Linked DNA regions of Homo sapiens: region 2 is linked to region 1. Evidence: fine-mapped expression QTL. A gene starts in region 1. The other region holds a variant in brackets. All regions are shown on one strand. Distances are between the middles of the regions.

Evidence for each region.
Region 2: its variant is fine-mapped to the expression of PHACTR2 in whole blood (TOPMed, PIP above 0.99).

The regions. Positions count from the first base shown.
Region 1 is chr6:143,671,752-143,684,455 of GRCh38, reverse strand. It overlaps PHACTR2 (phosphatase and actin regulator 2), which reads right to left and starts at 6,491. Exons shown (of 13, transcript NM_001100164.2): 1 at 6,247-6,491. The coding sequence starts at 6,292. RefSeq lists a silencer at 6,250-6,549 and an enhancer at 6,299-7,147.
Region 2 is chr6:143,531,204-143,543,907 of GRCh38, reverse strand. It overlaps a transcript of PHACTR2 not described here. Among named protein-coding and RNA genes, the nearest start is that of FUCA2, 26 kb to the right of the region's middle. RefSeq lists an enhancer at 4,671-4,720 and silencers at 6,554-6,913, 6,934-7,363, 8,950-9,039. The variant C/A (reference allele first, on the strand shown) is at 7,129.

The sequences.
Region 1 (12,704 bases):
GTGGCAGTAGGGACAGACAGAAGAGCATGGACTTGAGATATATTTGGGAAGAAAAAAGAACAAGACCTGCTGATGGATCCATGTGGAGGGGGAAAGGAAAACCTAAGAATAACTCCTAGATCTTGGGCTAGAATAAGTGAGTGGTTGGGGTATCATTTGGTGAAATGTAGAAAGTCAAGGGAAGAACTGGCTTGGAGGACAAAATCAAACCTTCCATTAGATCCATGTTACCTCTGGGATGCCCAGCAAGTTTTCAAGCAGACCTGTCAAATAGGGAGTTGCATATTTGAGCCTGGAGTGCAGAGAGAGGTCATAGATATGGATGTTCATTTCAGTATTGTTCATAAGAGCATATACATATGCAAAGAACCCAGGAACAATATTAAAATACAACAGGATTCTTTTAAAGGAAGTTTTCATATATCCACATACTATAATAGTGTTCATTTATAGAATTAAAGAGAACAAGTTGGAAGTATTTTCAAGTTATATTACACGAAAAATTCAAAGTATAGAGCAGTAAGTATAGTATGTCTTGTTTGACTGCTGATAAAGATATATCTATGAATGAAAACTGTGTGGAATGAAAAAAACTGTTCATGCTGGGTTATAGATGAAAAGTGGGACTGGAGGATTCTGGGAGGGAGTAAATTCATTTTTATCCCAAACCATCTTGTAATGTTTGACTTCCTACCATGTATATATTATGGAATAAAGAAAACAAACTCCATCAGCTTTTGCCTTTAGGACCTCTTCCTGTGCCTGGTTTACAAGGAAATGGATAAATATTCTGGACAAGACAAATACAGGGCCCTGAACAAAACTTGGAAACCCAGAGACACAGATGAATACAGGTTCTATCACAACATAGGTGTGATCCTGCACACTTTATTTACTTGTTCTCTTGTCTCTTAAAAATGGGGACAGTGGCATTGTCTGCCCTTTCAACCCAAGGATTGAGGAGAAGCAGCCAAGTGCTGATCTGTGGCACCGTGAAAATGGGGTGGGGTTGGAAAAAACTAGAAGAAATAATTACTAGATTCAGATACCACCCTTCAGACAATAGAGCCAGAGTAATGTAATTCTTGGACTAAAAAAAGAATATAAAAAATACATACCTCTCATTCATATAATCATTGGTTTAAAGCAGTCAGGCTGCTTATTGAGACTATTTGTTGACTCATTCATATATTCATCAAAAATGTATTGTATCCAATCTACCATGCTCTACACTTCACAATGAAATACTAGAAGTCTCAATCCTCCTAGGGCATGATGCCAGAGGGTACCGAAACCATCCTATTTGAGGGCATATCGTTTTAGCCTGTACTTAGAAATAATGGATCCAATTCTCAGTAAAATACTTTTGTAAACCTAACCCAGCAACATACAAAAAGGATTATACACATTACCCAAGTGGGATTTATCCTAGGAATGCAAGGTTGGTTTAACAACCAAAAATCAATTAACGTAACATGACAAATGAATAGGATAAAGGACAAAAACCATATGATCACCTCAATAGAGGCAGGAAAAACCTTTGACAAAATTGAACAATCTTTCATGATAAAAACACTGACAAAGTAGGAATAGCAGAGAACTTTTTGACAAAGTGAACCTATGAAGAAACCCATAGCTAATAGCACAGTTAATGGTAAAAAAAAACAAAAAACAAAAAACAAAAAAACAACTTTTTTTGTTAGATCAGGAACAAGACAAAAATGCTCACAACTGCCACTTCTACTTAACATTGGACTAAAGGTTCTAGCCAGAACTATTAAGTAAGAAAAAAATAAAATAAAAGGCATTCAACTCTAAAAGGAGGAATTAAAATGTTGTTTCTTTGCACATGTAAATAGATCTTGTATATAGTATGATCATGTATATAGAAAATCATAAGGAATCCACTGAAAAACTACTAGGACTAAAAAATGAGTTCAGGCCAGGCATGGTGGCTCATGCCTATAATCCCTGCAATATTGGAAGGCCCAGGTGGGTGGATCTCTTGAGATCTCGAATTTGAGACCAGCCTGGGCAACACAGAAAACCCCATCTCTACCAACAATACAAAGTAGCTGGGCATGGTGGTGGGCACCAGTGGTCCCAGCTGCTCAGGAGGCTGAGGTTGGAGGATCGCTTGAGCCCAGAAGGTTGAGGGTGCAGTGGATAAGCCATGATCGCACCACTGCACTACACTGAAAACTACAAAACATGGTGAAAAGAAAGAAGATACAAAGAAATGGAAAGGCATCTATGTTCATGGATTAGAAGACTTCATATTGTTAAGACAGCAGTACTACCCAAATTGATCTACAGGTTCAATATCATTGCTATCAAAACTCTAATTGGCTTTTTTGCAGAAATTGACAGGTTGATTGCAAAATTCATATGAAAATGTAAGGGAACCAGAATAACCAGTAGAAACTTTTAAAGGAACAAAATTGAAAAACTCATACTTCTAGGTTTCAAAATTTACTACAAAGCTACAGTAATCTAGACATTGTGGTAACTGGCATAAGAAGAGACAATGGAGCAGAATTGAGAATCCAGAAGTAAACCCTTATGTACACAGTCAATCAATTTTTGGCAACGGTGGAACACCATTCAATGGGGAAAGAACGGTCATTTCAACAAATGGTGCTGGAACAATTGGATATTCACATGTAAAAGAATGAAACCCTACATGACGCCATACATAAAAATTAACTCAAAATGTATTACTGACCTAAATGTAACAGCCAAAATTATAAAACGCTTGGAAGAAAACACAGGTGTAAGTCTTCTTGCCTTGGTTAGGCTGTAGTTCTCAGATGTGATACCAAAAACACAAACAACAAAAGAAAAAAATTGATAAACTGCTCATCATCAAAACTTTAAAATTCTGAGCTGCAAATCACTCTACCAAGATGAAAAGACAACCCAGAGAATGGCAGAAAATATTTGCAAATCATGTACCTGACAAGGGATTTGGATCTAGTATACAAAGAACTAAAACTCCAACAGAAGTCAAATTATCCAACTAAAATTAGGCAAAGGATCTGAAGACATTTTTTCCAAAGAAGATATACAAATGGCCAATAGCACATGAAAAGATGCTCAAGGTCATTAGTAATTAGGGAAAAGGAAATCAAAACCATGAGATATAACTTCACACCTACTAAGATGGCTATAATCAAAAAGACAGTAACAAATGTTGGTAAGGATGTGGAGAAACTGTAACTTTCATACACTGCTGGTGGGAATGTAAAATGGTCTAACTTCTTTGGAAACTGTTTGGCAACACCATAAAAGGTTAAACATAGAACTACCTACCATATAATCTAGCAATTCCACTACTAAATATATACCTGAGAAATGAAAACATATCTTCACAACAACTTGTACATTAAGTTCAGAGCAGCATTATTCATAAATAGCCCAAAGCAGAAATAACCCAAATGTCCATCAACTGATAAATGGATAAATAAAATGTGGCATATTCATACAGTAGAATATTATTTGGCAATAAAAAGAAATGAACAACTGATACATGCTACAACATGGATGACCCTTGAAAACATTATGCTAACTGAAAGAAGCCAGTCACAAAATGACACATTATGATTCCATTGACATGAAATGTTCTCAATAAGAAAATCTATAGAGACAGAAAAGTTGATTAGTGTTTCATTAAGGTAGAGCCCACTGGTTGAATAGGGTGGGAACAGAGATTGAGGGTCACACAACACTGTGAACACACTGAAAAACAATGAACTGTACACTTTCCATGGGTGAATTTTATAGTATGTGAATTATACATCAATACAGCTGTTCTTTTTAATAATGGATCTAACTGCATATTTTCAGAAAAAATTATTAATGGTCTTCCTAGAACCCAGAGAATTAGGTGCAACCTAAACTGAAAGGCTCTAGAGAGCCTAAAGTCAAAACGGGGAAAGCAAGCTAACTTCTAGCCTATAATGAAGATTTTTACAAAAGGCCAAATTGAGCGATAAGTATGAATAATTAAACTCTGTGCTATTGATTCCTTTGACTTAAACAGATTTTCGCCCACTAAGCATTTAAGATGAGAATCATCTTTAATACTGTAATCCTAAGCAGCTGCTCCAGACTTAAACAACTAGTCAATGGCTAAGATCAAACAGAACAAGGATCTTCACGCCATCTGTAAAGCCAGAGTTAAACAGTTAACAAGGAGTGAACAAAATACCTGGAATAGTAGAGAGTTTGACAGTCTCAGACTCAGAAAAATACAGACATGAATATAAAACTCAGCAAACGTTATTTAATTTAAATTTTTTTTTTTTTGGTTTTCATTTGGAATCTGATGGCAAACCTTCAGGGAAACAGGGTAGCTCTAACGGATTTAGAGACACTGGATACCACGAGAAAACTGTTCTTTTACAATACCACAACTTAAGTCATAACCACTGTCATTCCTTAACTGAAAAATAAAAAACCCTGTATTTATGATGTATGGATTGGTCATTTCAATTCATACAAACTTTTAATCCGCAAAACTGAGGACCTGCAATTTAAGTATAACACCGTTCCGTGAGATATTTCTCTGAATTATCTTTCATGATCAAGCATAAATTTTTGTTTAAAACACTTTTTACTTAAGTAGATTACAGTTTCTCATTATAATCAGTCATTTTATTTGGAATTATAGCAATCCGGGTTTTTTTGCTGTACTAAGACGTAGGGAGTCTCACTTTAGGATTTTATTTGCTTCTTAGACATCATTTATATAATATTCCTTGATTTTTATTAAGGCAAAATTTGCTTTTCTAATATTCACTCGAGTAATATTTTGTGATAAAATCACTAAATTCAGGACAATACTTTCTGTATACTCTTGTATTGGAGTACAGATTTAATTCTATCTTCGCCGGTGCACAAATGTAAAAATATAACCCTTCCTTGAAATGAAAAGAAGTCTCACACCACTTTAAGGTAAGACAAAGGAAACCAAGTCTTATTTGCACAAAATAGTTTACTAAATTTAAAATCCTACTCAACCCCTCCCCGCAAATATCTCTCAAAAAGCTGTCAACATGAGGTCTTTGATTTCAGAGCTGTAGCCATGTCATTAATGGTAAAGAAGGTATATTCTGATTCTGATGTCTCTTCTTTGCAGAAGGGTCTTCTGTGGTATTAACAGAAACCTCAGCAAAGCTTGTGGTATCTCAGGGAGTGAAGCTGTGCTACCTAAAGAAACCCACTGGGTATAAAGTGGGGTGGGGGGTTGGAATGACAGAATGCTATCTAGCTAGACATCCTGAGGCAGATTAAAAAACCTTCCTCTGTACCCTGTCATTTCCTTTCAGCAAGATCCTGTTGATGTTTGCACAATTTAAAAAGTGTATCAAATATCTCAATGAGTAACATAAACGGTCCCTTCGAGTATTATTTATTTTTAATCGTTGATGGAAAAATATCAAAATAGTACCTTTTAAATTTATTTCCTTATCCAATCACAAGTAACACCACCAAACAGTTTTTTTTTTTTTTATCCCTACACTGTCGGGGAAATGCCAGACGTACCTTCCTTCCCTCTTTTTGTTTAAGAAAATGGAAAAAAGAAACTTTTAAAACAGAGCATTAGAACTCAGACACGTTACACACGTCTCCATAAAACTAACTTTAGTCCTGGAGAACTAAGTTCATGAGATATGTTTCCCTAAATGTTATAGCTGCTGTATCTACTATAAACAAAACAAGTCTCATTTGAAACAATTACGCATTTCGGGGCTAGTTATTAAGTATTCAGCGTCTGCCAGGATAAGGCGATCAGCGCTTCTACTCCGAATAACAAACCATAAATCAGTTGACAAGCTTGAAAGCATTCAGTCCTAGTCTGTTCGGAAGCCAAGCGTAAATACAGAAAAACCTGTTGGCATGTTTCTCTTGCTCTCTAAGTTTCGCGTTTTTAAAAACACTGTAATACGCAAATGGCGTTTCCCGTAAGTTTCTGGCTCCGAAATAATTTGGATAAAAAACCACAGCGAGGCATCGCGCACAGAAAAATGGAGCCTGTGCCTTTAAGGTAAAATCGGCTGGATCCCAAAAGGCATTCCTCTTTCACGACAAAGAGTTTGGCGAGCGCTACCTCTGGGGTTTCTCCGAGGGACTTGGCGGGTCCGAGCGGAACCCGACCAGACGACTAACCCTGCCTGCCCCGGGGCCCCGCCGCCAGCCCTGCGCCCGCGCGGCGGGAGCGCATCGCGTGCGCCCCGGACTCACCGCTGCCGGGCTGCGGGGACAGCGTGGACACCGAGGTCTGGCCCATGACTGGGGTCGCAGGGCCAGGTCCAGCGATCAAGCGGCTCCTTTGGTCCTTCGATCATGGGTCCGCTCCCAGCCAGACTTCCAGGCGTTCATGTCCCGGCCTGTGCCGAGCGGCCCGCCGGGTCCCCTCACCTTCTACCCCGCGCGGGTCTCCCAGCCCGGCCGGCCGCAGCCGGCGCGGCGGATCCTGCCCAGCGGATGCCTGTCATTCCTCTATGCAGATTAGCTGGGGTCAGGGGTCACGGGGGAAGAAGGGGGGTGAGGGCGATAGGGAGGGGAGGAGGGGGAAGCGGGGGGAGGGCGCAGGAGCAGGGGGTGGGGGAAGCCCCCAGCCGGCCCCGCCGCACCCGCACCCCCTCAGGGTGGTAGGGAGTTCAGGCTTTCAGACTACTCCTCTTTGACTTAAAAGGTTCAAAGTCAAATGATCCTTACGGGCTACAAGAAAAGGAATTAAAGTATTTAGTCACGGTACTTAATTTAACAAAATTTGTTTCTTAAAAGTTATTTCCTTCCTTACATTCTATTTGCAGTATTGTGGCACTCTCATGTCTTGTGCCCATTTTTTTCTCGTTTTAAAAATTATCTTCCTTTTAACAAATATAATTTTTTAAAAACGGCACTAATGGCCTCAATCAGGCTTGACAACAAATCTAAATGGTAGGTCTACGTGTGAGATCAACAAAATATACTTTTTGCTGTCTCCCACCTAAAACTCTGGAGTGCTGACCTCTCCTTTATTTCAAAAGAATTACTGTGAAATAAAGTGATTAAAATACACAAAAGGGGAAAAAAACTATAACAAACTTGAAAGGTGAATTAAACCCTTCTATAATATCCTGTTAAATCTCAATCTTCTTAAAAATATGAATACAAATAAATATTCTTCATATTTACAGTTAATGATTAATTAGTATAAGTAATCTTCATGCTATATATATATAATGTGTGTATATATATATACAGTATATGGAACATCTGTATATGGTGCATTAGATTGGATGGTGGTTACTGGATGTGTTCATTTTATGAAAATTCATTGAGATGTCTGTAATGATGTGTGCACTTTGCTGAAGGCATATATTTCATTAAAATGTAAAAAATATCAGAAAGTGCAATATATTTAGGTCATTTACCACAGCTTTCATTTTTTAATTTATCCTAGACAATCAACTCTGAACTAACATGAAAATCATTTTTTTCTAAAATTTTTATTATTAAGATCGTGCAGAGCCTTGTTTGATTTTTTTGAAAGGCACTTACTTGTCTGTTTTGTCATGGTTAATTAAGTTGCCCTATGTTTTTTCACACCCAAATAGCCCACCCACCACTGTGAGGAAGATCTTTTCCCTAAAAAAGTGTGATCCATTGTCTTCTTCCCTTTGCCTAATTCACTCTTAAGAAACACTGATTTTTTTTTTTTTAATGAAATTGAGGATTTAACCAAAATGTGAGTTCTAATTAGGACAATAAAATTAATCCTAACTACATTTCCTTATAAATACAAAAATGTGTTTTGGAAACACATCCCACCTGGGGCGCTAAGCGATGAGAGTAAGCAATTATAATGGCTGGCTCCTCCAGCTCTTTGCTTTGAGTTGCCGTAAGAAAAAAACAAACAAACAAAAGTGGTTAAAGGTAAGTTAAGAGGGAGAATGTTTCACTCTTCCTTTTGACAGTCTTTCTGATAAAGGGAGGTCACTGATCAGAGGAAATATACAGTACCTTTTGCACATTCAAAATATGTAACTGTAATAATTTTTAAATACTGATAAAAGTTAAACTTTAAGGTTGCTATCATTTCTTCTTTTCCTTGAGAAACAATAGCATATTTCTATTACTTCTATAAATTCTTATTTCAAAGATCAAGGAGGTGCACTATAGTTCCAGTTTTTCAGGAATTGCTTAATACAGCTATATTTACCTTATTCAAGACCTTTCATGATTTGCTAGTTAATATAATCTTCAGCCTCATCTGGGATTCCTATAATACCCTAACCAGGTTATGCAATTTTCTCTGAAACTCTTCCAGTTCCATTACATTATCCTTGAAGCATGTCAACCAAAACTGCAGGAAGTGTGCACTAAGTTTTCTTTCTAAGAGTGGGACAGTTCTTGTTCTTGGTTTCTAGAGCTTCTGATGGAACTTGGCATTTAAGTGGCCTTTTTATCACAGCTAACAAGTTATACTAATGAACATAGAAAACGTCTACAGAAATCTCTAAATTTCATTTCTAGGTTGTAACGCAAAGGTTAGATATTATCACCTAACAAGAGAATTTTAAGATAATTTTCCCCCAAATTGCCTTACTCTTGCCTTATTAGAACTCACACAGTTTTACTAAGAGTTCTGGGTGTTAATCCCATGGGTTTATAGTTTAACTCTGGAAACATTTAATGTCATCTGAAAGGCATGGACATTTCTCTGTATACTACCTCTCTCTAGGGAATTTATTAAAATGCTAAACAGGATTAGACCCAATACCTAACTCTGAGGAAGCTATCTATTTATAATTCTTCAGCATTTATCCCATTGGTCCCACCCTTTGTTCTCTATTTCTAAACCAATCTCTTATCCAGTGATATCTTGGTAAATGCTTAACTGGTTTGGGCTGGGGGTGAGGAGGCAGGAGGGGGCCTCAGACTGCTTTGTTTACTGTGATGTAAATACTCCTACAATAACCTATTCTACAGGCCTTCAACCAGCTAGCAAAACTGATATCAAACAGCTTGCAAAATTCCTTGAAATGTAACAATTTGGCCCACCAGCCTGTGTGAACTGCCTTCAGCACACCGCTACTTTTCTCTGTTATAATAATGCCGCATCATATCATACCATGGCTGAGTTTGAGGAATAGCTTCTATTTAGCCTTCCTAAAAATATAGACTAATGGCATCTACTGATTTTTTCCATGGAACACTCTAAATATTTTTCAAGCTCTGAAAGAACTACTGTGATTTATTCATTTATTTCCAGAAAGAAACTAAAGAAAGTGAATTAGTGAGATAGAATTTCCCCTTCTGAAAGCCAGTGTGCCTTTATGACACAAAGTTGTACTTATCAGGTTTTCAAGCATTCTACCCTGTAACACAGACTTCACTGGCTTGTCTGATGTGGGAAGTCTTAGACTCACCCACCTGGGGTACCCAAAGTGACACTTGCACTCCTCCTGGATGGAAGCCACTATATCTATTAGGTTAAAGTTAAAGCGGACAAAAGCCTAAACATTGGCAATCTGGACCATTTGTGAGAAAGTTCTTTTCTAGGTCAAAGTCCAAATGGCAGACATACAACTTGGTGCCTTTAGAGAAGATGGTTTACAATTACTACAGTCACCACTACCAAATCCTATAACTTAGGTTACTGCCAGATTTTTCTAGGCAGCCAAATCTAGCCTGGAGCAGGAAGAAGAAGGAACCTTCCTCAGAACACAAATGCCATGAATACTAATCCTGGAGGTCTCTGCCTTGTCCAGATGCTGCCAGCTGTGTGAGGATTCATTTTGAGACACCAGATGTTAGGGGTGGAGGAATTATGATGGGAGGGAAGGGTTAGGCAGAGTCCCAAGAGATGAGATGGTTGATCAGAACAGCAGTGACCTGGGAGGCAACAGTGGTTGATAGTGGCCATATACAAGCAGATGAAGATTACATTAATTTACACCCTTATTTCTAGATTTGACCATAGACACCCTGTGAATTAGTGACATTTCCTTGGCTAATGGGAATTGTAGCAATAGAAAAATTATTTCTTAATGGGAAGGAAATGAATGAAAACTTAGCAGTTTTCCTAATAGTATACTAAAAACGATATGCAAAAGTTGTTTTAACTATTTGGGTAGTTTTTACTAGAAGATCTTCTGGTTTTTAAAAACTTTGTATGTCTTCAAAACTTGGCTACATTTTGTAAGAGTCAGCTTACTTAGAAAAATATAAAAAGCAAATGGGAGCTTTACTAGATAATATAAACTCAGTGAAAACTCTGTATATGTAACTAATGTTTACTTTGTAAAATGTTACTCTATGGTAAAGTTGCAACTAAATGGCTACTATATCTTAGATTTTAACAATTCTGAGAGATGCTGGTTTGAACAGGATAATGCTAACAGATAAAGGAAAACTTTTGTTAAGGAAAGAATTACAACTTTGCATATTCTAGTTATATTAAGCATCAGTAGAAGACCACATTCCACAAGTATTAGAACAGGAAACAAACCTGAAAGACAGGCTTTTCTTTCCTATTGTTCTCATATTTTCATGTGATTTATTTCCTGAGTTTTCCTTCTTCTGCTTGCTCAAGCTAAAAGGATTAACAAAATACCTTGCCTCTGCCTCACCCTGCGTGAGTCTCTGCAGAGGCGGGGTGTGGCTCACGTGTGCTTGCTTAGTGAGTGAGCCCCACAGTTGGAAGATTTATGCTGGAAAATAAAGACCTCAAGGGGTGGTGCTGGAATTTCCTTTTCCAAAGACATTCTCCCTACCCTGGGAGGAAAAGCGTCTGTAATTTTGCTCTACTTCATTTCATAAGCAAAACAAAGTACTCATCCATAGTATTAAAACTCTAAAAACTGCTATAAAATGAATAATCTTTAATTTATTGACCAAAATCTAAAGAGAACAGTCCTTAAAGACATCTTTTATATGACTGCCCAATTTACACAAAATAATTGCTTCCAGTAAGGCCCAAATCTTTGTTTTGTTAACCATCACATCCATCCCTAGAAACTAACAAAATTTGCCTGGCAAATAGAGGGTACTGAATACATAGATGATAAATTAAAAATAAGCATTTATGTTATCTCCTTAATGGTAACTTCCAAGTATGGACAAAAAAAAAAATCTGGGAATACATGTAAAATTTTGGTAATAATATAGAATGTTGACTCCATAGCAAGAGAATATCGAGTCTGTCTGTGACTGTAAATTTTCTTTTGTATGCCCCTCTGAAATAATCATCTACTCATTCACCTAGAATTGACTGAGGACTTCCCATGGGCGTGGTACCTCTAGCACATGGGCATAAGGATAAGTGAGGTATGGACTCTCCTGTGGCGGAGGTCATAGTATGGGTACGGTGGAGGGTGGGTGTTGCAGCCTACAAATACATGATCCTAACAGTGGAGGAAGAGAAGTTTGTTCCTCCAGCTGGGAGTGGTGACTCATGCCTGTAATCCCAGCACTTTGGGAGGCCGAGGTGGGCGGATCACCTGAGGTCAGGAGCTTGAGACCAGCCTGGCCAACATGGTGAAACCCTGTCTCTACTAAAAATACAAAAATTAGCCAGGCGTGGTGGTGCACTCCTGTAATCTCAGCTACTTGGGAGGCTGAGGCCGGAGAATCACTTGAACCTGGGAGGCGGAGGTTGCAATGAGCTGAGGTTGAGCCATTGCATTCCAGCCTGGGCAACAGAGTGAGACTCTGTCTCAAAAAGAAATAAATAAATAAAAATAAAAATAAAAAAGAAGAAGTTTGTTCCTCCAAGTGCTAGGGATGCCCAGTAGGTTAGTACAGAGAAGGCTCTGAACTTTAGCAAATTACTAAATCCACATTTTTGCCACACAGAGGTGCTCATTCATTCTGAAGGTGCCCTAAGATTGTGAAGTGCTTCCTGAATTAAAGAAAGATTAAATTCTAATAGTAGGTGGTCAGAATTAACTGTATTTGTTTGTTTATTGCTTGCAGCTTTTTTTGTTTGTTTTTTGTTTTTGAGACAGCGTCTTGCTCTGTGGCCCAGGCTGGAGTGCAGTGGTATAATCATTGCTTACTGTAGCCTTGAACTCCTGGGCTCAAGCAATCCTCCCACCTCAGCCTCCAGAGTAGCTGGGACTATGGGTGCCTGCCACCATGCCCAGCTAATTATTTGTAATTTTTTTTTTTTTTGTAGAGATAGGGTCTCACTATATTGCCCAGGCTTGCTTGCAGCTTTTTGAAGAATAAGTTATGGACCCTAAAATGTACCCATTTAAAGCAAACAGTTCAATAAGTTTTAATAAACATGTAGTCCAACCAACAGCACACTCAAGTGTCAGAAAACTTTGAGATCCCTAAGGTATTCCATCATGTCCTTTTGCAGTTAATTCCTGTTTCACATCCCTGTACCACCCTTGGCATTAGGGAACTGCCAACCTGCTTTCCATGTCCATACTTTTGATTTATCTAAAATTTCTTACAAATGGAATAATATTATGTACAGTTTTTTTTAATCTGGCTTGTTTCATATGTTTTTGATATTCATCCATGTTGCTCTGTGTATCTGTATTTTGTTCCTTTTTGTTCTAGGTTGCCTTCCATTGTATGGCTATACAAAAGTTTGTTTATCTGTTTACCAGTTAATGGGCATTTGGGATGTAACTGTATTTCACTGTATTCCTGCTCCATGAAAAGACTTTGGGTCTATATTGTGTTACATATATGCT
Region 2 (12,704 bases), 140 kb after region 1:
TCTCAGTTGTCTGTGCTCTTTCTACCATTGTCTCTGTCTTTCAGTGTTCATGTCAGAATATACTCAGAATATATCCATATCAAACTTGCAAATGCCTAAATTGTGTCTCCCAGGAAAAAGGCAAACACAGCAACCTCCCATACTCAGTCTCTGCCCAGCTCTCTACTCTCCCTTCTCTCCCAAAAGAACCCTGCTCAGAGCCAAAAGCAACTGCTGAGTGTTTTCTGATTATGCCAGTTTGTTTCAGGCCTTTTACATGTACTGTTTCCCATCCCCAAACACTCTTCCTCCCCAACCCAACTCCATCTTTCAGTTCCTCCTTTTGCATAGAGATAGCCCAGGTTTCACCTCTTGCCAGAGGCATTTTCTCCCCACAGCCATTCCCTATAGCCGACCATCCTAGGTTCTCCCCCAGGCCCAGGACAGGGCACTAATCATAGCTTATACTTTATTGCACTGTGGTCTTTGGCTTATTGGCCTGTCTTTCCCCACTAAACTGTGAGTTCCTGAGGGATGTCTTTGCAACCTTTGTGTTAGCTCACTAGCCATTTGTTGATTGAAAGAAGAAATGAAAAATCAAGATATGCCCTTGCCTACAGCATCTTCATCAGTACGTAGGGGCCAGAATAAATCCACGGCTTTAATATCTGTCTCAGAGCTGCCACTGAGGTACTGACACAAACTAGAGCTTAACTAGTTTAAGTAAATTAGCTCTTCATGCATCCTCTGAAAACAAGAACAGTCATCATCATCATCATGTTATTTACTGAGCATGATGCAAGGCCTATAGCTTAGATCACCAGAGACACTGCTGTGTCTGGCCTGCCACACCCTTTCTGAGTATCCTCTCTGCTTTCAGTCTAACTCCAGAATCACAGAATCACATCTGCTCACCTTTGTATGCCCAGTGCCTGGAACAGTACCTGGCACATAGCAGTAATCAATAAAGACTAATTGAATGAATGGACGAATGGAAACTGGCCAGGCTCAGTCCCTTCTACATGGCCATGTTGGCACTGTGACTTCATGCTCCACAACTGGTTTCGGCTCCAGTGAGTATCTGATCAAAGGCAACAAATCCAGAGGCACCTATGGGGCATATGATCTCTGTCTTGCTGTATAAAGGTGGCTTCACACAATAGGTCTTTTCTAGAGAATTTGAACTATGAAATATGAAGAAATTTTCCCCAGGTAAACACAAGGCAAGAGCTAAAAGGAAACAGAGGAAGATTGCTGTCAGGTAGGTAGGACCCCTGATGTGCCATTTTAAGCAGATGGATGAGGAAACACCTATGAAGGAGAGATAATCTGTTTTGATTAGAGAATAAGAAAGCTGGTCAACAGAGAGACAAACAGAAGCTCAAGCCTGCTGAAACCATGCCAGCCTAGGAAAGGGCTAGAGAAAGAGGAATTGGTTGCCTCAATTCCTGACAACTCTCTGGTGTCAGCCCCAGGTCAGGTGCAATCTGACCTAATAAGGACCTCCTGACTTAACAGGTGAAGCCAATTTTTCAAATGTGCCAAGCTCTGATACAGGACTGTCATCAGCTGCTATGGTAACTTGGTAAGAATCAGATAGGAGATGCCCCTTCTGGAATGAAGCCTGACCGGCGGTCAGGCTCCTGGGTAGATGAGAAGCCCATGGCTTTTGTGCAAAGAAAAGGGTGCTCTCCCTGGGGGAGAAGGAAGGCACACATGTCCACACCAGGTACACAGCTTGACCTGGGCAAAGCGCAGGCTGGACCTGAGCCCACCAGCACCTGCTCCATCCAGCACCCTCTTGTACTGTCCGAGCTGGCCTGGGCAGGGTGGCCTTGCTATTCCCTGACCAGGGAGAGACAGAAAGTAAACTTAGAACCAGATGGTCTTTGTTTGGAAAAAAACCCACTCTGAGTTACACAAATGTAAAGTGAGCAGGTGTTCATTGTTCCTGGCCTAGGGCACCTCCAGCTTAGCTCGTGGCTGGGGCTCAGAAGCCTCTTGGGACCCAGACACCCTTTCGGAGCACAAAGCATCAACTCAAAGAGTTACAACCTTGGAGGTCAGTAAGAAACATAGTAGAAGCACCAGCAAGGGATAAGCAAGCACAAGCTTCCCCCAACAGCACAGGTGACCCAACAGCAGAACTGGTCTTGGACAGCAGTATCTCATGGAAGTGGCCAGGAAGCAGTGCATATGAACTGATAGTACATTGAGGTATGCGAGATTTCTCACTTCCACTCAGCACTGAACACACCAGGAATTAAAGATTTGAGAAAAAGATCCTGGATTTGCTGTTACCCCTATGCCTATATATACCAGGGCATAGGGATACTGAAGAGATGAATCACAGTAATAAAAAGATGAGATTGTACTTGCACATTAAGCTAATGAAGTGGTCCACACACCTATACTGCTTTTTTTGGAGGTGGCTTGAATGGTTCTCTGATCTATGCAGCCCAATGTGCAATGTGCAAGACTAAGCATCATCACATGAAAATAAAAACATCTTTTGGTCCTCCCTATAGCCCACACAGGTCCAGAACAGCACCTGGCACCCAGTAGGCCAACAGTCGGTACTTGCTGAATCTTTACATGGTCTATGCCCCTGGCTGTGTGTCTTCAGGTTCTTTACTTACTAAACACTGTGCTTATCAGAACAGCACATCAGAAACCACTAAAAAGTTATCAAAGCTCCTTAATACCGAACAGGATCTGTCTAAAACTTAAGAGAATACATGACCATATACTATGAGAACCTTGTTTCAAGATTTTACTTTAAAAATTGAGTTAAACATCACTTTATTTACAAAGAAATACTGGATTTTAAAAATCCAAGGCTGGGAGCAGTGGCATGCGCCTATAACACCAGCTACTCAGGAGGCTGAGGCAGCAGGATCCCTTGAGCCTCAGGGTTTGAGGCTGCAGTGCACTATGGTTGTACTGGCGAACAGCCATTGTACTCCAGCTTGGACAACACAGCAAGACTCCATCTCAAAAAAAGAAAAATAAATTCAGAACTTTTGTTGAATTCCAGAAGTGTGAGTTCAAAAACCATATGGCAAAATGAATCCACGTTTTTATAAACATAATAAAAGAGTTTATTCATAAATTCCACTGTTACTTCAATTCTATCTTTAAAAATTGCTTATTTGAAAATATTTTGTTTTCTTAACTTTTTTGTATAGATTTTGAAATATAAAACTGGCTTGGGTTTTTTTTTTCTGATAAAGCACTTGCATTCTTATGTGAAAAATTCCTCAAGCCACAAATTAAATAAAATCCCTTGAAGTCTGAGACGCTTGTCTTGACAAAAATCTAGTAATAATCTAGCATAGTCAGGGGAAGCCGATTCTCTTGGGGTACCCTCACGGTATTTATCAACACAGTGCTAGCACAGAACAGGTCTTTAAAAATATATATTTAGTATTAGACTGACTGTTTGCAGCAGTGGGCAAGATTTTAGAGGCTGAGTTCCAAGTTTTTATTATTCTTTCCTGGAAAGAAGGATGGAGGTGGAGCTGTGGGGGAGGCTGGGGTAATGATTGCAGGTAGCAAGGATGGTCTGTCGTTCTGGAGGGAGGCTGTTCTCTGACAACTCTTGGCAAGCACTCTTTCTTCCCCTTCCTCTTCTCCATTTCAGGTCACTGTCACTGCAAAAGGTGATTTCCTTTTCCCCTCAACACTCTTCTAAGGACCCACAGCAGGGAGTTAACTCATGATTAGAAATTATCCCTTAGGAAGAACATCTGACAACTAGCTGGAATCAAAAATAGGAGCAAGGAAGGCTGCTTGGGAGACTGCAGTAGTAGAAGAGAGGATGTAGCAATAGGGATGTGAGAAGGTACTAAAACAAATTCTTCAAACTTACACTTGTATCACGGTATCACAAGACATACGGCAGCAAGCCAGGGTGACATAATATGGCACAGGACAGCAGTTCTCAAACTTCGCTACTCATTAGCGTCATCTAATGGCCAGGATGCACCTGATGCCAATGAAATCAGAATCCCTAGGTGTGCGACCCAGCCACAGGTTGCTTCGTTGTTAACTCCCCAAGCAATTCCTACGTGTAGCCAAGTTTGAAAACCAGTGTGGGAGAGCAGCACTTTTCAAACTGCAAGGTGACTAAGAACAACCTGGGGATCTTATTAAAATGCAGATTCAGTTAAGCAGGCCTAGGGTGGGGCCTGAGATTCTGAGATGAGGCCACAGATGCTGGTCCGGGGCTGTTTTGGCAAGCCACACATGACCTTGCTCTAGGTGCTGCCTCTGTGTGTGCCCAGAGCTTCTGGAGAAGGGCTGGAAATTGGGCTACTATAGTGTTAGGCCAAGGAATGTTTTTACAAGGCGTGTAACCCTCTTATTGTGCCTCTGAGATAATTCAGAGATCCCAGCACAGTCATCTTGCTGATTCTCAGATCCATCCTGCATGGCTTACAGAGGCTGCAGAGGCTGTGGGGCATGCTGGAGAAATACTCTGTGTGTCAGTGAAGGACCTGCTCATTCTTTTTCTCTCTGACTCTAAGAGCAGGGAGCTCCTGATCACATTTAGTCTGCTCTTAAAGGGATCCGAGGCTCAGTTCTGAAAATGAAATCAGGTACATGAAAGATGTTCACTCTTCTACATCTGTGCCAGCATCCTGCGGCACATGGGACAACTGAGCTGAAAGGTTTCACTTCCTAGCATCCGTTAAGAGGACACAGAAAAGACAAAGAGTCCTCAGAAGTAAAATAATTTTATAAATTGGAGCCCATGGTTCACATGATGTACACTTTGCACACTCACATTTTAAATGTCTTTGCTGTCCTTTTTCGGCATACAGGCCATAATTTCCATCCATGAAAATGAAAAATGGCGATGCAAGCTATACTTTGTCTACAATCACCAACTAGGTGAATTCTCAGTGGTCTCTTTAGAGTCTCTGAACAGTTAATCTTTGTAGAAATCAATCAAAATAATCCATGGCTCGAGTTCAGTTTGGCCAGCACACCAAGAGCAGGTGGTTAAAAACATTCGGACTCAATGCTTTTCACAATACAAATTCAGAGGATGAATCTTTACACAAATCCCACTACCTCTATTCTAACAGTTCTGACTTGTTTCATCCAATGCGATCTACAAAGTCACAACGGCAATGCTTTTGAGGTTTTTCAAGTACACATGTTGGGCGGCAAAAACAATATGACAAGAATAAGAAGACAGAAGGCTATGGTGAGAGAGTTAGCCAGCTGAAGTGGAGTCAGAGGCATGGAAATGTGCTTTTTTGAACAGGAAGCTCAGCTTTAGCTGAGGTTGAGTTAGAACCCAAAGAAGGCCTGATCCCGGAGCACAGAGCCTGAAAACCAGGGCAGTGGTAGCTGGTACAGTGCACGTTCACGCCCCGGCAGGGCTTTTGCCGCTATGGGTAGTTTTTGATGCTAGCTAGCTTCATTTCTAATTTCCCAGCTCCCATGCATCCTACAAAGATTGCACATCAGACAACTGGTGGAAACTTGACGCATCTGGTGGACTTTTAAAAAACAGTCCTACAATTCTTAGGCTAATGCTTTGTTCAAAAGCAGTTTAAAATGATTACTTAATCCACATAACCTCCCAATGTGGTGGTACCATACTATGATTCCCACTCTGAATACTGAGATAGGAGAGACAAGGTTAAGTGATTTGCCCAACGTCACACAACTCGGCCGGCAGCATCGGCCTTAGCTGAGTTCCTGATTTCGTCGGTCCCGGTGCACGGGGCACAGGGCAGCCTCTGAGAACACATGGGCCGGTGCTACCGCAGAGGGGCTAGCTTGAGGCTTTTGTGTGTTTGTGTGTGTGTGTGTGTGTGTAAGACGGAGTCTCACTTTTTCATTCAGGCTGGAGTGCAGTGGTGCAACCTCTGCCTCCCAGGTTCAAGCGATTCTCCTGCCTCAGCCTCCTGAGTAGCTAGGACTACAGGCATGCGCCGCCTCGGCGGCTAATTTTTTGTATTTTTAGTAGGGACGAAGTTTCCTGACCATGTTGGCCAGGCCGGTCTCGAACTTTTGACCTCAAGTGATCGGCCGGCCTTGGGCCTCCCAAAGCTCTGGAATTACAGGCGTGAGCCACCGCTCCTGGCCGAGGCTTTTTCAAAACATGTTAAAGGATGAGAGGCACAAACAGCCCGCCAAACTCTCCCCTGCTCTCCCCCATTAACCTCATGGGTTTTTGCAAGGAGGAAAAACTCATATCCCGGGTCCTCTTACCAGCAACCCGCAAAAGGCGTCTTTATTTCAGAACCATAAGCAGTTAGTTGGGAAGCCTCCCAAGACCTGCCCTGGTCCCAGCCCGCAAAGTGAGGGAACCGCACCCTTCCGAGGGACCAAAGTCGCGCCGAAGACCGAGAATGTTCCTCTTTCTGATGGAAAAGCCTCGGAAGCCAAGCTGCGGTGCTGCCTGGCGCCGTGCAGCCGAGAGGGAGCGCTCCCTACCCCAACCCAGGCTGCACACTCGCCCCGCAAGGCGCACCAAGCCGTCGCCTGCTTTTAGCATCTTCCGCCTAGGGTCGCCGAGCCCGGGCGGCCGAGGAGGCGGCAGTGTGGGGAGTTCAGCCTCCGCCCTCCCCTGTCCCCCACCCCCACCCCGCCGCCAGCCTGCCGGGCCAGTGCCCGCGGGCGCCCCGGGTTGGCCGCGTCGCCCTCGCGGCCACCTGCCCGCGGCCGGCCCTCCCCGGCCCGCGCCCCGAGCCGCTCTTACCTGAGCCGGAGATGTGGACCCGGAGCGGGCGGCCCCTGCTCGAGGACGACGAGAGGTCGCTCTGTGAGCGGCCGCGGGGGCTCGGGTCCCCGGGAAGCCAGCGCAGGGCAGGCGCCGCCGGCGGGGCGGGCGCCTCGGGCTCGGGGACTGGGACCGCCGCCGCCTGCCCGGCCGGATCGACCGGGGACGCCGCGGGGCGCCAGCCCGCCTCGGCCATCGGCTCCCGGCGGCGGGGCCGGAGCACCGGGTGGGGCCGGCGCCGAGGGCTGCGCTGCCCGCTGCTGCCCGGCTCTGCCCCGCGCGCCGCGACCCGGAGGCAGCGAGAAGGGCGGGGAGGTGGACGCCGGGCGCCGAGGAGCCGGTGCGGAGGGCGGGAGGAGGAAGAGGACAGAAAAGTTTGCACAGGAAGGAGCCGCCTACAGCCGGCT[C/A]TCGCTCCAGCGGGCGAAAGCTGCAGGGCTCGGAGCTGGGCCGCCCTCGGTGCCCGCGAACCTGCCCGGCTGCTCCTCCCCCAAGCCCCGGGCACTGGCCCCCGGCAGGATGGCAGCAGGGGGTCCCCTCCGCGAAGCTCTGTTCACCCAGCAATCCGGCCGCAGAAAAGCCGAGTTTGGGCTTCTGGAGCTGGGATGCAAGGTCAGAGCTAACGATATCATTTCCATTGTGGTGGGTGGGGGTGCCATGTACACATACGTGAGCTGCCCTATGATGGAGCAAGAATGATCATACCCAGTTAACAGATAGGAAACTCCGGCGCAAAAATGCATTGCACTTGCCGGGTGGATTAGGGGCAGATTCTGGAGTCCCTTGTGAAGTGAAGCCTAATGCCCTTCCCCATCCGCACCCACACCCCTTGCCCTCAAAGCCCATCTCTACCTCTCACGGTTGCCCACATCCCTGGGTATCTGTCTGCTGGGTGTAGGGAGCAAAAAATAGCTTCCCTCCACCCTTCTAGGTTCTTTGGCTGGCCTATGAATTAAACTGCCATAAGGCAGATTAACAGGACAAAGAAAACCCATTTTAATTACCAACGTTCACATGGGAGTTTCACAAAATATGAGGCTCAAAGGGTCAGATGATTGAAGCCTGTATAGCGTCCTGAGTTACAGAAAAGAACAGGATCTTGGAATTTGGGGGGCGGGCAGGTGACACAAGTTATGGGAGGGTCGGGGAGGAAGTGTATAAAGAATAAAGGTTGTCTCGTGCAAATTTTAAAAAGCTGATCAGGTAATAAGGAGTTGTTTTCTAGCGGAAGCATAGGTGTTAATCTGTCTGGGCCTGCTGTGATCCCAGATTTTTCCATTCCTGACAGATGAATTCCTATTAGAGGATCTGCCTTTTTTTGGGGAGGGGAAGGAGTTTCACTCTTGTGGCCCAGTCTGGAGTGCAATGGCTTGATCTCGGCTCACTGCAACCTCTGCCTCCTGGGTTCAAGTGATTCTCCTGCCTCACCCTCTCCAGTAGCTGGGATTACAGATGCCCGCCACCACACCCAGCTAATTTTTGTTTTTTGTTGGGTTGGTTGGTTGGTTTTTGTTTTTTAGTAGAGACAGGGTTTCACCATGTTGGCCAGGGTGGTCTCGAACTCCTGACCTCAGGGTGATCCACCTGCCTCCGCCTCCCAAAGTGCTGGGATTACAGGCTGAAGGATCTGTCTTTAGGCAGATAAAAGGAAGTTCGGAGAAAGCTCCTTCTTGCAATTGCCTTCCCCAAGCACCCTCAGTTTGAAGTAACCAGCCTGCCAAAGCAGCGTATTTTGGAGCAGCATTTTCTGAACTCCTTCATAAGTAAATACTCAAAGGTCATGTTTAAAAAGCCAGTCTTCCGAGAACTAAATAAATATCACAGATTTGATGTCTGAGTCAATGCTTTCTAAAGGAAAGGCAGCTGCATTGATTAGAAATATCTTAGTTAATGCCACACCTTGTAGGATTTTGCAGAATGAGCAGTGGAGATTATGCTGATTCAGCTGGTGATTTCAAAGCCTAAGCTTTATCAATCTCACGATTAGGCCCCCAAGTTGTGACTCGCCCAGAATTAAAAGACTGTAAGTCAGGCTCAGGAGTCATCAGTCCTCTGAAAGTTCATGGCAAAGGAGGAACGTCCCTTGGTTCACCCACAGACCATAGATAGCCAGTGAGAAGAGATGGAGATATGGGGGGAAAGAAGGGACAGCGCTGGCAATTACTCCTGTTAACACACACACCCCGATTCTAGGTGCTATGTCAGGCATTTTGCACGTATTATATCATTTAATAAGAGAACAAACCTAATCAAGAAGGTAAGAGAAAAGAGGAACAAAAACCAAGAGTACATGCTGCAGAAGCACACCGACACGCACAAAGGCCTTAGTAGCAACTAGGTCATGATACACACACACACACACACACACACACACACACACACACACACACAGCTCACCCTTGATCATTTAAAAGGGCTTTCACTTATAATTCTCACAGGAACTCTGTAGGGAAGATATGATTATTCCATCTTTGCTGCAAAAACTGTCCAAATATAGGCTAAGCATGGTGCTGCAACAACTGTCCAAATACAGGCCAGGCATGGTGGCTCACACCTGCAGTCCCAGTATTTTGAGAGGCTGAGATGGAAGGATCCTTTGAGGCAAAGAGTTCATATCCAGCCTGGGCAGTATAGCAAGTCCCCATCTCTGCAGAAATTAAAAATAAAAAAATTTTAGTCCAGCTGGTGAGGCAAGCCTCTAGTCCTAGCTACTCGGGAGGCTGAGGAAGGAGGATCGCCTGAACCCAGGAGTTCAAGTTTACAGTGAGCTATGGTCATGCCACGGCACACTAGCCTGGGCAACAGTGCAAGAGCCTGTCTCAAAATAAAATGAAATAAAATAAAATAAAATAGCAAAACTAATAAATCAAATCTGTCCAAATACAGGCCCCTTTTCACAAAGTCAGCCAATGTTGTCTGGTCTTGCTCTAAATATTTGCTACTAACAGTCTGTTTAAATTTATACTACTCCAAATGTGACCTTACTTTCTTGATATCTTGTGTAGTTTATGATAGGAAAAAAAGGTATCTCTGCCTTTAGAGAATTCACTATGCGTTACTTTAGACAATAGGTCATCGATAAGATTGAGAGTGCACTGAGATGGATTTTACAGTTACCCTGAATAACCAGCATTAGATTACAATGGCATTTCTCAGCACCGTTTGCTATCTAGTGTATTGTATTACCTGATGATGCTGTCTGTATTCCCTCAGTGCACTTCCTCAGCAAGAAGCTCCCCCTTCACAAGCTGCCTTCTCTCTGGGGCACACATTCCAGTTGCCTATGCCTGGGTCTCACCCCAATTTTCTCTCCCCATTGCTTACAACATGAATGTTCATACATTCTTCTGGACTGCATGCTTTTTCCTTTTCTGGTTAATCTTCTGTGTCCTCTCTTGTGAAGAGAGGAATTAAATGAGGAATTAAATGCTTTCAAATACAAGAAGTCTTCTCTGACTCATTTTTCAGTTATTTAGCAATTCATCATTTCAACTTTTATTAGATAATTACATATTTGAGTGCCTTTTTGGGCCAGGCACTGTGCTAGGCTCTCCATATCGTCAAGGAACCTCTCAGCCCAATATTCCTCCATTCATTTTCCCATGACAGTCAATCTTCTACAGAGAGTAGCGTATACTCCAGAAGCTATTCCCAAGTTCTTACAGTCCCCCTTCCCCATTCATTCTTCTACCATCTGTAGTATGACTACTGCTCGCCCTACTGCATGGAGCTGCTTTAGCAAAGATCACATCTGAGCAGCTCATTGTCAAATGTACTGGGAACCTCTCAGGTCTTACTTAATCTGATGTCTTCTGTCGCTTTTAACACTCTCGACCACTGACTCGTTTTGTGGGCTCTGCTTCCCTGGTTTCTAGGACACTCATCTCCCCAGGTGTTCCTTCAGCCCCTCTGCTTCCTTGTTACCCTCTTGTCAGGGTCTCTTTTTTCCATCTGCCCATAGGTACTGTTCCCCAGATGTCCAGCATCAGCCCTCTTCTCTTCCCACTTGACTTGTTTCTCCTGGGAGATCCCAGCTTCGGCTTTGACTTACACACAAATGACTCTCTCCACCCCAGACCTCTCTCCTGGGCTTCAGATCCCAGCATCTAGTTGCTTCCTGGGCTTCCCTTCTTGATGTTTCATTGACATTTGGCAGTCAACACTCCCTGAGCTGAACTCCTCCTCCTCCTCCTCATGAACATGCTCTGTCTATTCTCTTAGATAAATAAATATCTTAATACCTTAAATAAATATCCTCAGAATCGGTTTCCTCCCTGCTATTCCATTGCCACCTCTTTAGTTTGAGCCTCCATCTTCTATTTTCTCCTAAAGGAACTCTCTATCTCCATACTCACTTTCTTCTACTCTGCCCCCATCCCATTTCTGGAATGATCTTTCCAAAGTACTCACAAGACTTCGCTACCCCTCCATTTTAATTCCCTCAAAGCAAGTGTCTATGAATATACACAGAATAAAGTGTATATTCCTCAGCATGGCATATCAGGGTTCCGTACCCTACCCCAAACTCTTTCCTTGCTGCTGTTATACATACTGTGGCGGCTCAGGACACAACACCTCAAAATATGACTGTAGGAGGCCAAAATATGCCACTCTGGGATATACTTCTTTGGCATATTTTGAGCGGGTTATTCTGAGAAACTGCAGACACAGGAGTAGCTCTGAAAAGCTGTCCTTTGGTAAAAGAAATTTACTTCTGTAAAGGAAAACAATTTTTTAGGATTCTCATCAACCAGGGAAGATCTTATCATAGAAGATGAGAATGAAGGTTGACACCTTGCCCAGATGGACTTTGTCACAGGCTGATACAGATTCTTCTGATAGGCTACTCTGAAACAACTTTTATTACCCGAGAGAATTTTTATCTGCACAATAAGACAACCTTTGTTTGCCACACATTTCCTCCCCTCACCCTCCCATGATGTGTGTCACCACCACTCCCAGAAGCACCAAGCCCCTCTTGCTTTCTGTAGCTCAGGGATACTATATGAGCTTCAATCATCTGACTCTTCTTCCAGTCTCAGATTTTGTGGGACTCCTGTGCATATATACATAATTAAATATGTTTTTTTCCTGTTAATCTGCCTACTGTCCATTTTTCATAGACTCAATTATCACACCCTCAGAGGGCAGAAAATCTTCCCTCTCTGCACAATACTCCACTCCCTAGCCATGCAGACCAATTCATCATTCTCTGAATGGCACCTCCTCTTCCTCTCGGGGTGCCTTTGAACTCCCGTTTCCTTTGTCTGCAGCATCATCCCCCGCCTTCTCTAGCATGACCTAATTGACCAACTGTCACTCATCCTTCAAGCCTCAGGTCAAGCGTCTCCTCATCTGTCTTAGTTTGTTTTCTGTTGCTTCTAATAGAATACCTGAAAGTTAGTAATTTATAAAGAAAATGAATTTTCCTTATAGTTATGGAGGCAAAGTCCAAGGTCAAAGGGTCACATCTTGGTGAGGGCCTTCTTGCTGGTGGGGACTCCCTGCAGGGTCCGGAGGTGGTGCAGGGCATCACATGGCGAGAGGGCTGAGCGTATTAGCTCATGTCTCTCTTCCCCCTCTTATAAAGCCACCAATCCCATTCCCATGATAAACCCATTAATCCATGAATGGATTATTCCATTCATTAGGGCAGAGCCCTCATGATCTAATCACTTCCTAAAGGTCCCACCTCTCAATACTGCCAGGTGGGGGATTAAATTTCAACAAGAGTTTGGAGGGGACAAATGTTCTTTTTTCTTTTTTAATGTGTATTTTTTATTTCAATAGCTTTTGGAGTACAAGCGGTTTTTGGTTAAATGGATGAATTATATGGTGATGCATTCTGAGATTTTAACGCACCTGTCACTTGAGTAGTGTATGTTGTACCCAATATGTAGTTTTTATTCCGTGCTCTCCTCTCACCCTCCCCTTTCTGAGTCTCCAAAGTCTATTATATCACTGTCTCTGCCTCTGCATACTCATA